2 linked regions of the Homo sapiens genome follow. The protein of the gene in region 1 interacts with the protein of each later gene in a pairwise test. Each region holds a gene or a part of one and is shown on either strand. Other genes may lie near its edges.

Region 1 (9,632 bases):
CCTCCACCTCCCAGGTTCAAGTGATTGTCCTGCCTCAGCCTTCTGAGTAGCTGGGATCACAGGCATGCACCACCACATCTGGCTATTTTTTTTTTGTATTTTTGTTAGAGACTGGCTTTCACCATGTTGACCAGGCTGGTCTCGAACTTCTGACCTTAGGTGATCCGCCCACCTCGGCCTCCCAAAGTGTTGGCCACCGCGCACGGCCTTAGCTTATTTTCTAAACAGAAAATAAAACGAAAGAGGGCCTTGGGTGGACAAGTGTTGATGGATAATGATAATCTGGCTCTGTCAACTTGAAGCAACAACAACGAAAGACAGAAGGAAAATACCACGTTCATATGAGAACATGAGAAGCCCTCCGGGGCCCTGCCCATCTGAAAAAATGGCGTAGTAGGCCACGTGCAGGTGGCTCACACCTGTAATCCCAGCACTTTGAGAGGTTGAGGTAGGTGGATCACCTGAGGTCAGGAGTTCAAGACCAGTCTGGCCAACATGGTGAAACGCCGTCTCTACTAAAAATACAAAAATTAGCTGGGTGTGGTGGCAGGTGCCTGTAATCCCAGCAGCTAGGGAGGCTGAGGCAGGAGAATCTCTTGAACCCGGGAGGCGGAGGTTGCAATGAGCCAAGATTGTGCCACTGCACTCCAGCCTGGGTGACACAGCGAGACTCTGTCTCAAAAGAAAGAAAGAAAGAAAAAAAAAGTGTAGCAGAAATAGACCAAAGAGCAAAGGCAATTCAATGGAGAAACGGTAGCCTTCCCAGCAAATGGTGCTGGAACAACTGGACATCCACATGGAAAAATGAACCTAGGCACAGACTGCTGTGGCTTGAAGGTATGTGGCCTTCCAAAATTCATATGCTGAAACCTAATTATCAAGATGATGGTATCGCAGGGTGGGGCCTTTGAGAGGTGATTCGGTCATGAGGGCTCTACTCTCATGAACAGGATTAGTGCCCTGATAAAAGAGGCTTCATGCAGTGGTCTTGCTTTACTCCCCTTTTCCAACACGTAAGGACATCATGAGAAGATATCATTGATGGAACAGACCTTCACCAGGCATGGAACCAGTTGGCACTGTGATCTTGGGCTTCCCAGCCTCCAGAACTGTGAGAAAAATGATCTGAGACAGACCTTCCATCCTTCACAAACATTATCTCAAAACAGATCATGGACTCAAATGTAAAACACAAAACTATCGAATCCTAGAGGATAACATGGGAACATCAGGTGACACTGGGTTTGGTGATGACTTCTTTAGATACAAGGCCAACAGCACGACCCATGGAGAGAGAGAAAACAAAGCAGCAAACTCAGCTCATGGCCAAGTAAGGAAAGGGCAACCCGGTTACTCCAGGCCAAGGCTCCCAGGAGAAGGGAGCTGGACAGAGTTTCTGGGTCGTGGTCTGGCTTCAGCCTCCCTGACAGTCCCTTCTGGAAAAGCCAGTGGGCAAGGTCGTTAGAGACTCCTGGGAAACATGGGTCCCCACTCACACATCTGACACGGCTGGGCTGGGGACTGGGGATTGCACGCATCCAGTGGAAAAAATACAGTTGGCCTTCATATCCGTGGGTTTCACATCTGAGGATTCAACTGGCCATGGATGGAAAACACTTGAAAAATAAAAAATAGCAATACAACAATAAAGATAATACAAATTAAAAAACAAATCAGGCCGGGCACAGGGGCTCATGCCTGTAATCCCAGCACTTTGGGAGGCCGAGTTGGGCGGATCACGAGGTCAGGAGATCGAGACCATCCTGGCTAACACGGTGAAACCCTGTCTCTACTAAAAATACAAAAAATTAGCCGGGCATGGTGACAGGCACCTGTAGTCCCAGCTACTAGGGAGGCTGAGGTGGGAGAATGGTGTGAACCCGGGAGGCGGAGCTTGCAGTGAGCCGAGATCGCGCCACTGCACTCCAGCCTGGGCGACAGAGTGAGACTCCATCTCAAAAAAAAAAAAAAAAAAAAAAAAAAATCATTACACTATAACTGTTTATGTAACACTGACATTGCATCCGGTAATACAAGTAATCTAGAGAAGATTTAAAGCATTAGAGAGGATGAGCAAAGGTCCTATGCAAATAGTATGTCATTTTAGATCAGGGATTTGGGTGTCCATGGATTTTGGTATCCCCAGTAGGGGGAAGCCTGGAACCCATGCCCCGTGGACACCGAAGGACAACTGTAGTCAGAAGGGTGGGATCTTCTGTGTGTCCTGCTTCTAAGAGCACCATGGCCTTTTTGCAGCTCTCTATGGTGGGTCAGAGTGGAGCCCTTCTGTGGGGTGTCATGGCATCCTCAGTGGGTCCAAGCTCTGGGACGTGGAGGGAGAGCAGGGACCTACCTCATCAGCACAGAGTAAGATAGGACCCATCCAGATAGGAATCTGGGCCAGACTCACCTGGGTACCCATCTTCAGGTTAAAGAATGCTGGAGTGCCCCGGGGAGCATGGTGGTGCCGCCCTCACCCTGTCTCTATCTTGAGCGCAATCGCCCGCTCCAGCCTGACTGCTGTGCTGGGATGTCACTGCACTGTCCTCAAGCTGCACTGTCAAGCGCAGTAACTGCCCCATGATCAGCTGTCTCTCATGTCCTTCCTCCCGGACGCTCTCCCAGGGCTGTATATTTGTTAGGGTTTTCTGATTACAGGGAGAAGCTGACTCTAACTTTAGCAAGAAAATGGATTTATCTGGCATGATGCTGGGTAGATCACCAAACTGGTGGAATGTCTAATGGAGCGGGGTTTCGGACACACAGGCGAGACCGGTTCTTTTTTTGTTTTGTTGTTTTAGAGACTGAGTCTCACTCTGTGGCCCCGGCTGGAGTGCAGTGGTGCAACCACAGCTCCTTGTAACATTGAATTCCTGGGGCCAGCCATCCTCCCGCCTCAGCCTCCTGAGTAGCTGGGACTACAGGTGCGTGCCACCACGCCCGGCTAACTGAGACCTGTTTTGAGTGGGATCCAGAGCAAGAAAGGACCCTGCAGGAGGACTGGGCTGCGGGGCAAGCTGCTCTGCCACCAGCAGCGAGAGCCCGCCAACCTAACGGTGCTGGAGGGATCTGTCCATGGTAGGCCAGGATGCTGTGCGGAACCCTCAGGAAGCCTCAATGGAAGGATCCCAGCAGGGACCATAGAGGCTGTGGCAGGGCCACACCTTCGGTGGCAGAGCTACTCACTCACCACTGAAAAAAGCATAGCTGTGGCCATGCTACTGGGACCTAGGAGAGACTTACAGCCTGATCATGGGGCATCCAGGGCCTGTGTGACCCAAGCCACCCATTGTGAACTGAATATTGAGGTGGAGATGGCACATTGAGGCCCAGGCAGTCCAGACCCCCGGTCACCCGGCTCTTTCACACTGGTATGCCCCTTCAGCTCACACCTATGGCCTCATGGGAGGTGGTGATGGGGTGTCCCCATGACTGACTCAGACCCAGGTCCTCGACTGGTCATCTCATGTCACCACTAGGAAAAACACCTGCTGTCACACTGAGGCCCTTTGCAGGGTGGCCCTGAGAGACAGCAGTGAGGGGACATCCTCTAGGGGAGCAAGACACTAGGTTGTCTACTTTGTAGAGGGAGAAATGGCCTGAGATGAAGGTGTCCATGACCCCCGGGCAGTGGAAAATGGCTGGGCTGACTGGTCAGGGACCCGGGTGGAGGAAGATTGGAAGAAGAGACAGGTTTGGCGAAGAGGTACCTACGGGAGTGCTCAGGGAGAGTGTGGGGCCCCGTGCTCGTCTTCGCGCCCATGCCGCTGGGGAGCATGCAGTGTGGAGGGGGCGCGCCAGAAGCTAGCGAACAGAGGGGACCATCTGGTGGAGGTCAGCCAGCTTCTCCCCAGGATGCGATGGACCCACGATGCCAGTGGCCATGGTGGGAGGGCTGGAGGCTCTGTATAAGCCCAACGGCAAGGGCTTCCTCTTACCACGGCTCATCTAGACACTGCCGCTAGTGAATGTTCTTCCATCCACCAGCTGCAGAGACCGATGCTGAGCCCTCAATATGACGCCATTCCTCAAGACTAGCCAGCCATTGGGTGGCAGGTTGCAACCTGCACACCAGCCCTTGTCTCAAGTTCTGCTTTCTGGGAGAAGCCCTGGATAAGAAACTCGCCTCTCTTCTCCACATTCTGGGCAGGCCCGCCATTCTTGATTTCTCTTCTAACGAGGAGCCAGGGAGGAAAGGAAGGGCTCCGATTCAACAGCCCCGTGTGGCTGGGGGTTCCCTCACTTGCCCAAACCTGGAAATGAAGCATGTAGCAATTTCTCCAAGTGATCTCCTGCAGCCGGGGCAGCCTCTGGGAACGCAGACTTCCACCCGCTGCTGCTTTCCAGGCAAAGGCCTTCTCCCTCCAGGCTTGTCCAAGAAGACGGGGAGGTGGTGGGAGAGAAGAGGAAGAGATGGAAGGGCTGTGAAAGCGGGGACCGGGTGAGGGCTGGGGCTGAGGAACAGGTAGGCGGCGGGCCCAGGCTGGCCAGTGCTGTGTGCAGGCCCGGGTCCCAAGGCCTCCGAGGCCACTCTCCCCACGACCCACCCCCTCCCCACGCTTCGCTCATCCTTTTTTCTTTCTCTCTTTCTTTTCTTTCCTCCCTTTCTCTCTTTCTTTCTTGTTTTAAACAAAGGTGTCCGTTTCAAAGACAGCAGGGAATGGCTGAGTTGAAGGAGGGATGCAGTCATTTAAGGCGAAGCCCGAGGAAGGAGCAGAGGCGTGAGGGCTGCTGCGTCCAAGACCGGGGAGAGGGGCTGAAATCGCGGACTCTCTCTGGGGGACCCAGGAGACTGCTCCTCCTGGCAGGACCCCTCTCTCCCAGAGCGGCATCGCGCAGACAACGCGCCTGGTGCCCGCCCCTCAGGACCGGACGCCGGGTGTCGTGGGGTGCCTAGGACCCCCGCCCGCTTCCGTCGAGCGCCCGCCCCCGGCTTCCCGCGCCGGCTCCAGCGCCCCCGCCGCTCCCTCCCGCAGCCGGCCCCGCTCCCCTCCCCGCCCCTCCCGGCGCGCGTGCGCCCCGTGCCCGCGCCCCTCCCCCGCCGCCGTGGGCGCGCTCGCGTGCCCGTCGTCCCGGGCGGGAGCTGGAGACGGCCAGCGGCTGCTGGACGAAGAGCGGGCGCCGGGAGCTCCGAGAGCGCGGCCGGGCGAGGCGGGAGCGCGGGCGCTGGCCTGGCCGCGGGCGGGGGCCGCCGCCGCGCCGCTGCCCCCCTGTCGCGGGCCGGGCCGCGGCGCCGAGCGCGAGGGCCGGGCTCCCGGGGCTGGCGGCCATGGGCAGGAGCCGGAGGCGGCAGCGGCAGCGGCGGGCCCCGCGGGCGGGGAGGCGCGCGGCCCACGGCCCCTGACGGCCCCTGGCGGCCCGGCGCGCCCCCGCGCTCCCTGGGGGGCCGTAGCCTGGCAACGCCCGGCGCGCCCGCCCATCCCCCGCTGCCCTTTTTCTCCTGGCCGGGTGCGAGGGAGCATGCCCGCGCCTGGCCTCGGCCAGCGAAGAGTTAACCTGAGGGGCGAGCCGCTGCCCCCACCTCGGGGGCGTGCCCCCCTCCCCCGCTAGGCGGCCCGCCCCCCGCGCCAGGGTATGGCCCCTGGCCCCGGCCCGGGACCCGAGGTCCCGCGCCCGGGTCAGTGAAAGGCGTCTTCCCGTTCCCGCCCTCCGCCTCCTCTCGCCGGCCAGCAACATGGGATGTAATATGTGCGTGGTCCAGAAACCGGAGGAGCAGTACAAAGTGATGCTGCAGGTAGGGCCGCCGGCGCTGCGGCGGGGGCGCGGCCCTCCGCGGGGAGGAGCGGGCCAGTGGGGAGGCCCGGAGCGGCGGGCGTGGGAGAGCGGGAGGGCTCGAGGAGGACAAGGTAGGGAGCCGTCCGCACCCTCCCATCCTGGGGCTGTTGGGTGTTGGCGCTCCGTGGGAACCAGCCACGGGTGGGGTGGGAAGTTGGGGTTGGCCCGGGTGGGGCGCGCTTCCGTCCCGGGAGGCGCGGTGCGGCGGGCGCGGGATGGAGGTTGCATAGCAACGAGCGCAGTTCCCCGCACACGCTCTCCCCGCAGGACCCAGGGCGGGGGAGGGAGCCAGGCTCCCGCCGTGCGGGGGGCGCCGAATCTAGATCCCGGCGGGCCTGGAGCGTGGGAGTGCGTGGGCGTCCCCGGGCGCGGTCCAAGTCCGTCCGGGGGCTGGGTGCCCACCCCGACACCCACTCCCGCCTGGCCCTGCCCGAACGATGGGCTCCCGGGCCTTAGGCGTCTCGGGTGAGTGGGCGCCGCCGGGATCAGCGGGTTGGGCTCTCTGCGGGTGGCAGTGCCTGGCCGGGCTTTGCGGGGCGTGGACCAGCAGGGCCCCGCGGGGAGGGAAGGAGACGCGGGGCCCGGAGCTCGGACCTGGAGCCCAGCCCCGCGGCCCGGAACGGGGCTTCTTGCCTGTGCGTGGCGTGACTACGTGAGTGCGTTCCTGTGCCCCGTCTCTGTGTGCGCGGAGGCTCCCCCGGCCCCGCATTTGTGTACTTTCTGTGTGCACCCTGCAGACTGTCTAGAGAAATGTCCCGGATGCTGTGGGCTGAGACCTCCTAGGGCTAAGTGGAGGGAGGTCAAGGTCAAGGCACCCAGGAGCAGACAGGGCTCAGACAGGTATGCGTTTAGTGGCCTGGATTCAACTCCCGGGTTTATTGGTCTGGACTGGGAAGGAATCAAGTGCTTTGCAGGAGGGGTGTTGGCTTGGGAGAACGTGGGGGAACCCGTGCAGGGATCGGCGAGAACTCCGGGGCGGGGGCGGGGGCGGGGGAAGGAGGGGCTGGGCACGGGGGAGAATTCCCAGGAATCCGGGGACTGACTTCACGCTGTGAGCCGAGCTCCTCTGGCCACCTGGTGCGGGAGCCGAGGGGCAGGGCGGGGACGCAAATCTTGCCCCACCCTGGCGGAGCTCCTGGTCCTCTCTCCCCGGCCCTTCTCCGGGGGTGCGCGGGGCCCTCGGCTTCTCCCGTTCGCTGTCCTCCGCCTTCTTCCCTCTCAGTTCCCGGCTGCCACTCCTCGTCTCTTGTTCCCGCTGTTTGGAAACCTTGTGTGGCCATTGCCAGCCCCCTAGCGGGATAGGAATGCGACCGAGAGGGCGTCCTGTGGAATCCGTGTTGGATTCCAGGGCTGGGATGGTTGGTTGACGGGGACTCTGGATCCCATCCTCCTGCTTCCTTTTCGGGAGTCATTCCATCAAACGGCAAGCGATTTCTCCAAGCGATTCCTCCGGGGCCGTTTTGACTTTCCTGGAGAAGGATTGGTGTCGCACTTCATTTAAGGCCAACCTCGTGGGGACGTGTGGATAGGGGAGAGCGACCCGAGCTGCACCCCAGGCCTGAAATGAGCCATGGGACGACACCGGTAGCCCTTGGGGCTCCCCACAGCCCTCCGGGAAGGCCTCGGCAGGTCGGGCTGGGCCTGCCTTCAGGGAGGTGAACTTGGGTGGGCCCTCCCTGCTCTGCGCCCTAAGCTCTCCTTCATGGAAGGGACTTGCCCACCCCAAGGAGACCCGCCAGGAGGAGGGCCACTGCCGCATGCGCCCTCTGTGCGCTTTCCTGCTGGGCTCCCTTTGAAACCGTGGGAGTTTGGCTGCAAACTTTCACTTTCTACATTCCTCCTTGGCCCAATCAAAGCCGGGATTTTACGAGGAGAACCATCCTTCACAACTAAGGGAAAACAAGAGGACTGAAAAAAGTAGATACGGAAAGCAGTGCAAGCCATGAGCTGTCCCAGGGGACTGCGCTTCTGGGGGTGGACGCATCACCAGGTCCCAGCCTCTTCAGAGGAGAAGGAGCTTTTGTTCCAAAAGACAGGTCAGCTTCTGGGACCCCGTGCCTGCCTCCCGGCCTCCTTAAACACGGGTGCTCCCCCATCTTTAGGGGGCACTTCTCCCTGTCCCCCCTGAGTAACCTCGTCCGCACCTTGTCAGGGTGAGGCACTTCATGGGCCTGATTTTCAGAAAGAAGCACATGTGCATCTGCAGCGCCTTCCATCTACAATCCACAGAGGCCTGGGATCCCCAGGCCAGGAACCCCCAAGTCTCTAGCCTAGCCTTGTGTTCCAAGCCATTTTCTGCCAATGACTCACAACACTTCCAAAATTACAGCTGTATTGAGCTATCATTCTCCTACTGCACAACTTACCCTTTCAAAGTGTACAAGTCAGTGGTTTTTAGTATACTCACAAGGTTGTGCAGCCCACACCAGTAATTCCAGAACGTTTTCATCACCCCAAAAGAAACCCTGCACTCCTTAGCAATCACATCCCCATTTCTCCCTCAAACTTCCTAGCCCCTGGCACCCACCAATCTACTTCCTGTCTCTATGGATTTGTTTATTCTAAACATTTCATAGAAACTGACCTTTTGTGTCTGGCTTTCATTAATCATAATGTTTTCAAGGTTCATCCATGTATCAATAGTCAATTTCTTTTTATTGCCAAATAATATTTCATTTTGTGATATACAACATATTTATCCATTCGTCAGTTGATGAGCATTTGGGGTGCTTCCACCCTTGGGCTGTTGTGAATAGCGCTGCTGTGAACACTGGTCTACTTGTATCTGTTTGAGTCCTTGCTTTTAATTCTTTGGAGTGTGTGCCTGTAGCCATTGAACTGTTTTCCACAGTGGCTGGAACCAGTTTACATTCCCACCAGCAACATATAAGGGTTCCAATTTCTCTATATCTTTGCCAACAGTTGTTATTTTCTGGGTTTTTGTTATGGCCGTCCTGCTGGGTGTGAAGTGGTATCTCATTGTGATTTTGATTTGCACTTCCTGTTAGCTAAATGATGAGCACCTTTTCTTGTGCTTGTTGGCCATTTGTGGATCTTCTTTAGAAAAATGTCTGTTCTTAAGCCAGCGCCACACTGCTTTCATTACTGCAGCTTTGTAGTAAGTTTTGAAGTAAGGAAATGAGAGTCCTCCAACTTTGTACGTCTTTTTCAAGACTGTTTTGTCTATTCTAAGTCCCTCAAGTTTCCATATTAATTTCAGGATCAGGTTGTTAATTTCTGGAAAGAAGCCAGTTGGCATTTTGATAGAGATTGCATCAAATTTGTGGATCAATTTGGGTAGTATTGTTCATGAGCATGGGGTGCGTTTTCCATTTATTTAGGTCTTTAATTTCTTTACATGATGTTTTGCACTTTTGTTTAAGTTTATTCATGAGTATTTTCTTTATGATGCTATCATAAATGGAATCGTTTTCTTAATTTTACTTTCAGCCTTCTCATTGCTACTGTATAGAAATACAATTGATTGGCTGAGCGTGTTGGCTCACACCTGTAATCCCAGCACTTTGGGAGGCCAAGGCGGGTGGCTCACCTGTGCTTAGGAGTTCAAGACCAGCCTGGCCAACATAGTGGAACCCCGTCTCTACTAAAAATACAAAAAAAATTAACGGGGCATGGTGATGTGTGCCTGTAATCCCAGCTACTCAGGAGACTGAGGCAAGAGAATCGCATGAACCCCAGAGGCAGAGGTTGCAGTGAGCTGAGATTGCACCGCTGCACTCCAGCCTGGGTGACAGGGCAGGACTCTGTCTCAAAAAAAAAATTGATTTTTATACATTGATCCTATATCTTGCGACCTTACTAAAATTGTTTATTAAGTATAATTTGTTTAGTAGATT
Region 2 (5,734 bases), on another chromosome or scaffold:
GTAAAAAAAAAATATGATGTAAAAGGTAAAAAGTGGCACACCTGTCTAAGGCCCTGACCATGAACGGAGCTTGCAGAACTGGAAGTTGTTCTGGGTGAATAAGTGAGTGAGTGGTGAGTAAATGTGAAGGCCTAGGACATTACACTACTATAGACTTTATAAGCATTGTATGTTTAGGCTACACGAAATTTATTGAAAACATTTCTTAATAATAACCTCAGCTTACTGTAACTTTTTTAGTTTATCAAGCTTTTACTTTTTTTTTTTAACTTTTGGACTCTTGTAATAGTACCTTAAAACACACATTGTACAGCTATACAAAAATATTTTCTTTATATCTTTATTCTATAAGCTTTTTTCTATTTTAATTTTTTTTAACTTTTTAAATTTTTTTTGTTAAAATCTGAGACACAAACACATATATTAGCCTAGGAGTACACAGGGTCAGGGTCATCAATATCACTGCCTTCCACCTCCACACCTTGTCTCAGTGGAAGGTCTTCAGGGGCAAGTAACATGCATGGAGCTGTCATCTCCTGTGATAACTAACAGTGCCTTCTTCCGGAATACCTCCTGAAGGACCTGCCCGAGGCTGCTTTACAGTTAACTTTTTAAAAACCATATAAGTAGAAGGAGTACACCCTAAAATAGTGTTTTAAAATTATAGAGTAATAAATACATAAACTACTAACATAGTCATTATCATCACGTATTACATACTGTAATAATTGTATGTGCTGTACTTTTATACAGCTAGCAGCACAGTAGGTTTGTTTACACCAGCATCACCACAGACATTTGCATAATATGTTGTGCTGTGACCCTATGACAGCTATGCGGTCATTAGGCGATAGGAGTTGTTGAGAGCCAAAAAGGCCAAAGGGATCGTGATCAACTCAGCATTCCACTGGAGGCTATATGATCAAACAGCAAACTGTTTATCATGAATGCAGGATGTGAGCAAACTCACACTGCGCCTGCCACCAAAAGGTTTGCTGAGGGACATCACTCCCTGGCACCGGGCTCCTTGAAGTTATCCATTGAGAAATCTAGAGCCTATTGTTCAAAGGATGCAGTCTTGCAAGCCTGCTGTGAACCAAAGTGGCCGACTGACAATTGCCCGACAATTGCCCCCCATTTCTCGTTATCTCTTTTACCAATAAATACGGAGGGCTGTGTACAGCTCGGGGCCCTTGTCCACTAGAGGCAAGGTGCCCCCGACCTCTTCTTCCAAACGTACTCTCTTGTTTTTATCTTTTATTCCCACGTTCGCCCCCTTTGTTCAGTCCACCAGGTCTGTGCAGGTATAATGGAGTTTTTCAGCTCCATTATAATCTTATAGGACCACCATCATATCTGTGGTCTGACATTGATGTATATGTATATACCTATATATGTGTATATATATACCTTTATATGTATAGTTATATGTATATATATACACCTATATATGTATAGTTATATATACATGTATAACTATACATATATAATATACATATATAGTTATATAGGTATATATATACATATATAGTTATACATGTATACCTATACATATATAGGTATACATTATATAGGTATATATAATATATATAATATACATGTATACTATGTATACATATATTATAGTTGTATAATGTATACATATACATAACTTTATATTATAATTGTACTCCCTTTCAGAAGCAATGTCTCTATGGTACAGTGAAAACAATACTCTTTGAGGGTCAAAGGGCTATCCTGGCTCTCTTTCTCATTTAACTTGTCTGGATCAGTGTCATGTTTGTAAAGTGGGAGGACTGGCTTGAATTCGCTTTCAGTTCTTACTTTGCTGTGAAATTATTTTGCTCCTGAAAATATTTCTGACTATTGAGTGCATGCTAGAGAAAAATATGTTTATGGTTCTCTCGGCCAATATTAGGAAAGATTTGAGACTAGCAATTCATTCCTTCAATATTTAAGGATACTTTTTTCTTTTTTTTTTGAGACTAAGTCTGGCTCTGTCGCCAAGGCTAGAGTGTAGTGTCTCGATCTTGTCTTATGCAACCTCCGCCTCCCAGGCTCAAGCCATTCTCTCACCTCAGTCTTCCGAGTAGGTGGGACTACAGGCATGCACCACCATACCTGGCTGATTTTTGTATTTTTTGTACAGATGGGGTTTCACCATGTTGGCCAGGCTGGTTTTAAATTCATGAGCTCAAACAGTCCATCTGCCTTGGCTTCCCAAAGTGCTGGGATTATAGCTATGAGCCAATGCACCTAGCCATAGTTAAGGATAGTCTATAATTACCTCTGTTTTACTTAAGTGAAGTGATGGGCAACTCTATACTCTTAATGATAATGGTTGGCCAAGTTATCAGTCACATGATGACTACTTAGTCTGTGCTTGCCCTACAGTAGCAATTGCAGAATACTTTAGCTAGAACTTTTTTTTTTAAGTTTTTAGCACTATAGAAGTAGTGAAAAAGCAGATGTTACATTAACAAAACAAGAGAAATTCATGTAAAAAGGAAAGCTTATCTGAGTTTTTGCAAGAATAGACTTAATTTTGCCAGTGACAATTATGTGTTTAAATATTACATTCTGATTTCATCACATGTATTTCCTGAGAGGACAGTGGAAGTAAAAGAAGTTCTAATGCTACAGATTTGAGAATGTTCTGAAAGCGTCGTACCTTTAAGAGTTATCTCCAGAACATTCTTGCTGTCCTAGTGCCACAAACCATGCTTGTGTTTTTTGATTTGCCTATCTCAGATACTTTGGGATTCTGCAGAAATGAAATACAGTGATTTTGTATTAATTGGGAAATTCTTAATATATAATTCAATTTTTAATCTTTTCTATGCTTCTGATTCTGAAATATATCATTTGCCATCTCCTTGTATAAATATTATGATTGTCCCTGCTTCAAGGAAACATTTATATGATCTTGATGATTTCTTTGTTAGGTTTTGGTATATTTTACAAATTTCCACCACTTAGGCTTAGGATTAGACCAAGCCTGCCACATTCCCAAGGTACCTTTTGATAGAGATGTTTATACAAGGTACACAGAATAACACGCAACATCCTGTTCATAATTTGGAGTGGCTTTTCAGACACAAACAGCATGTCTAACTGGTTACTTGAAAAAATTACATGTTGTATACATATCAATGCTTGATTTGTTTTAATGGAAAAAAATGGCTTGTTTTGTCTTACAGATATGATGATATGTTAGTGGTACCCATTATTGAGAATACACCTGAGGAGAAAGACCTCAAAGATAGAATGGCTCATGCAATGAATGAATACCCAGACTCCTGTGCAGTACTGGTCAGACGTCATGGAGTATATGTGTGGGGGGAAACATGGGAGAAGGCCAAAACCATGTGAGTGTAAATCAGAGAACATGGGGAACAAGTTACCACCCGCTAAATGTGAAGGAAAACAAAGTATGTCAGTTGGTTTAAATTTAAATTGTTTATCATTATTTGTAGATACTTTATTTTTATTATGTATCCATTCATGAAGAAGTATTGATTGGATGAGCTGTTGTTTGGCAAGGCTCTAGGAATGTTGATAGAGGAAGAAGACACAGATCCCAAGTTACAAAAGTTCTATTTCAGAAAGTGACATCTAGTTTAAAAAAAATGTAAATTTATGTAGGCAGTATATTTTAAACTCTCTTTTATTTCCTGAGAGGTATGTAATATTGTTGCATGACTTAATATGATTCCTTTCTGTGTTTTAAAAATGTTGAGGGAAAAATAGAATTTTGGCCTAGAATTGAGAGAAAATACATACTAGGAACAAAGCAGAGTTAACTGCAAGAGAGGAGAAATGTGATTCTTTAGGATTGGAGAACTCTGTTTCGATAAACACTGGTTCTTTTTGCTTTTTCTTTTACAGGTGTGAGTGTTATGACTATTTATTTGATATTGCCGTATCAATGAAGAAAGTAGGACTTGATCCTTCACAGCTCCCAGTTGGAGAAAATGGAATTGTCTAAGCCAAAAGAAAGTCTAATTATATACAGAGATAAAGCTAAACGTAATTATTATTTAAATGAAAGCTATTTTTTTAAATGAATTGAAATTTTTCATGATGCTACTAATTTGCCACTAAATACTGCAAATGGTCACCCTGAATCTCTTCTGACATTGGATGTTATTTGCTTATATTCTTATAATTTTAAATGAGGGCACAGTGAAATGAAAATTTTATACTCTATGTTTCTGTTTATTTTTAAATCCTTAACAGCAAAATATTTGCCTTTAATTTCTTTTTTATATATACTCTCAGAGAATTCCTCTTAATTTTTAAAGATGCTGGTGATAATAAAATTCATTAGAAAATTTCCTCATTGTGGAATGAGCATTCTCTTGTTTTAATGTTGGTGTCAGAAAATAAATATGAAACATTAAGTCCAAATTTATCCCTCAATGTTAATGTCAAAATAATTTTATAGATTTCCCCTATTAGCTTTAGTGTTTCCCTGTGGTCTACAACAGGACACTCATTTTATATTGGGATCAGTTGTGAAATTCAGGTCAGGTGGTATCAACTCAAATTCCCTTAACCAAACAAATCTTGATCAAACCGATGATGTAATCAGAAAGTCCTTTCTTTAAAATTGTTTTAAATTTTAGGTTTGGGGGCCCACATGAAGGTTTGTTACATAGACAAACACATGTCACAGGGGTTTGTTGTACATATTATTACATCACCCGGGTATTAAGTTCAGTATCCAATAGTTATCTTTTATGCTCTTCTTCCTCCTCCCACCCTCCGCCATCAAGTAGACCCCAGTGTCTGTTGTTTCCTTCTTTGTAGTCATAAGTTATTGCCATTTAGCTCCCACTTAGAAGTGAGAACATGCAGTATTTGGTTTTCTGTTACTGTGTTAGTTTGCTAAGAATAATAGCCTCCAGCTCCATCCATGTTCCCGCAAAAGACATAATCTTGTTCTTTTCTATGGCTGCATAATATTCCATGGTGTATATGTACCATATTTTCCTTATCCATTCTGTCACTGATGGGCATTTAGGTTGATTCCGTGTCTTTACTCTTGTGAATAGTGCTGCAGTGAACATTTGTGTGCATGTGTCGTTATGGTAGAATGCTTTATATTCCTTCAGGTATATACCCAGTAATAATAGGATTGCTGGGTCAAATGGTTGTTCTGCTTTTAGCTCTTTGAGGAATTGCCATACTGCTTTCCACAATGTTTGAACTAATTTGCACTCCTACCAACACTATGTAAGGGTTCCCTTTTCCCTGCAACCTTGCCTGTATCTGGGTTTGTTTGTTTTTTCTTTTTTTTTTTTTTTTTTTTTTGTGACAGTCTTGCTCTGTCACCCAGGCTGGAGTGCAGTAGCACCATCTTGGCTTACTGCAACCTCCATCTCCTGGGTTCAAGCGATTCTCCTGCCTCAGCCTCCCAAGTAGCTGGGATCACAGGCATGCTACCACCCCCGGCTAATTTTTGTATTTTAGTAGAGACAGGGTTTCGCCATGTTGGCCAGACTGGTCTCAAACTCCTGGCCTCAAATGATCCGCCCACCTCGGCCTCCCAAAGTGCTGTGATTACAGGCATGAGCCACTGCCCCCAGCCTGTTTTCTGGATTCTTGGCGGAGGTTCTTCCACTGGGGAAAAATAGTTTTAGCCACCTCTGGTTAATTTCATTTTCCTCATTTTAAAATGCAGCTAATGAATAAGATAAAGTATGTGGAGGAACAAACCACAATGCTTAAT

The links. The genes of interacting proteins can lie anywhere in the genome.
Region 2: the proteins of PDZD4 (region 1) and APIP interact in a two-hybrid assay, tested with the Homo sapiens proteins (2 studies listed by BioGRID and IntAct).

What each region holds. Positions count from the first base shown.
Region 1 is NC_000023.11:153,826,341-153,835,972, reverse strand, and holds the start of PDZD4 (PDZ domain-containing protein 4), read left to right. Parts: upstream 1-5,428; 5' UTR 5,429-5,674; coding exon 5,675-5,734; intron 5,735-6,013; exon of another isoform or gene 6,014-6,240; intron 6,241-9,632.
Region 2 is NC_000011.10:34,880,971-34,886,704, reverse strand, and holds the end of APIP (methylthioribulose-1-phosphate dehydratase), read left to right. Parts: intron 1-3,200; coding exon 3,201-3,368; intron 3,369-3,888; coding exon 3,889-3,988; 3' UTR 3,989-4,410; downstream 4,411-5,734. UniProt on the Homo sapiens protein: Catalyzes the dehydration of methylthioribulose-1-phosphate (MTRu-1-P) into 2,3-diketo-5-methylthiopentyl-1-phosphate (DK-MTP-1-P).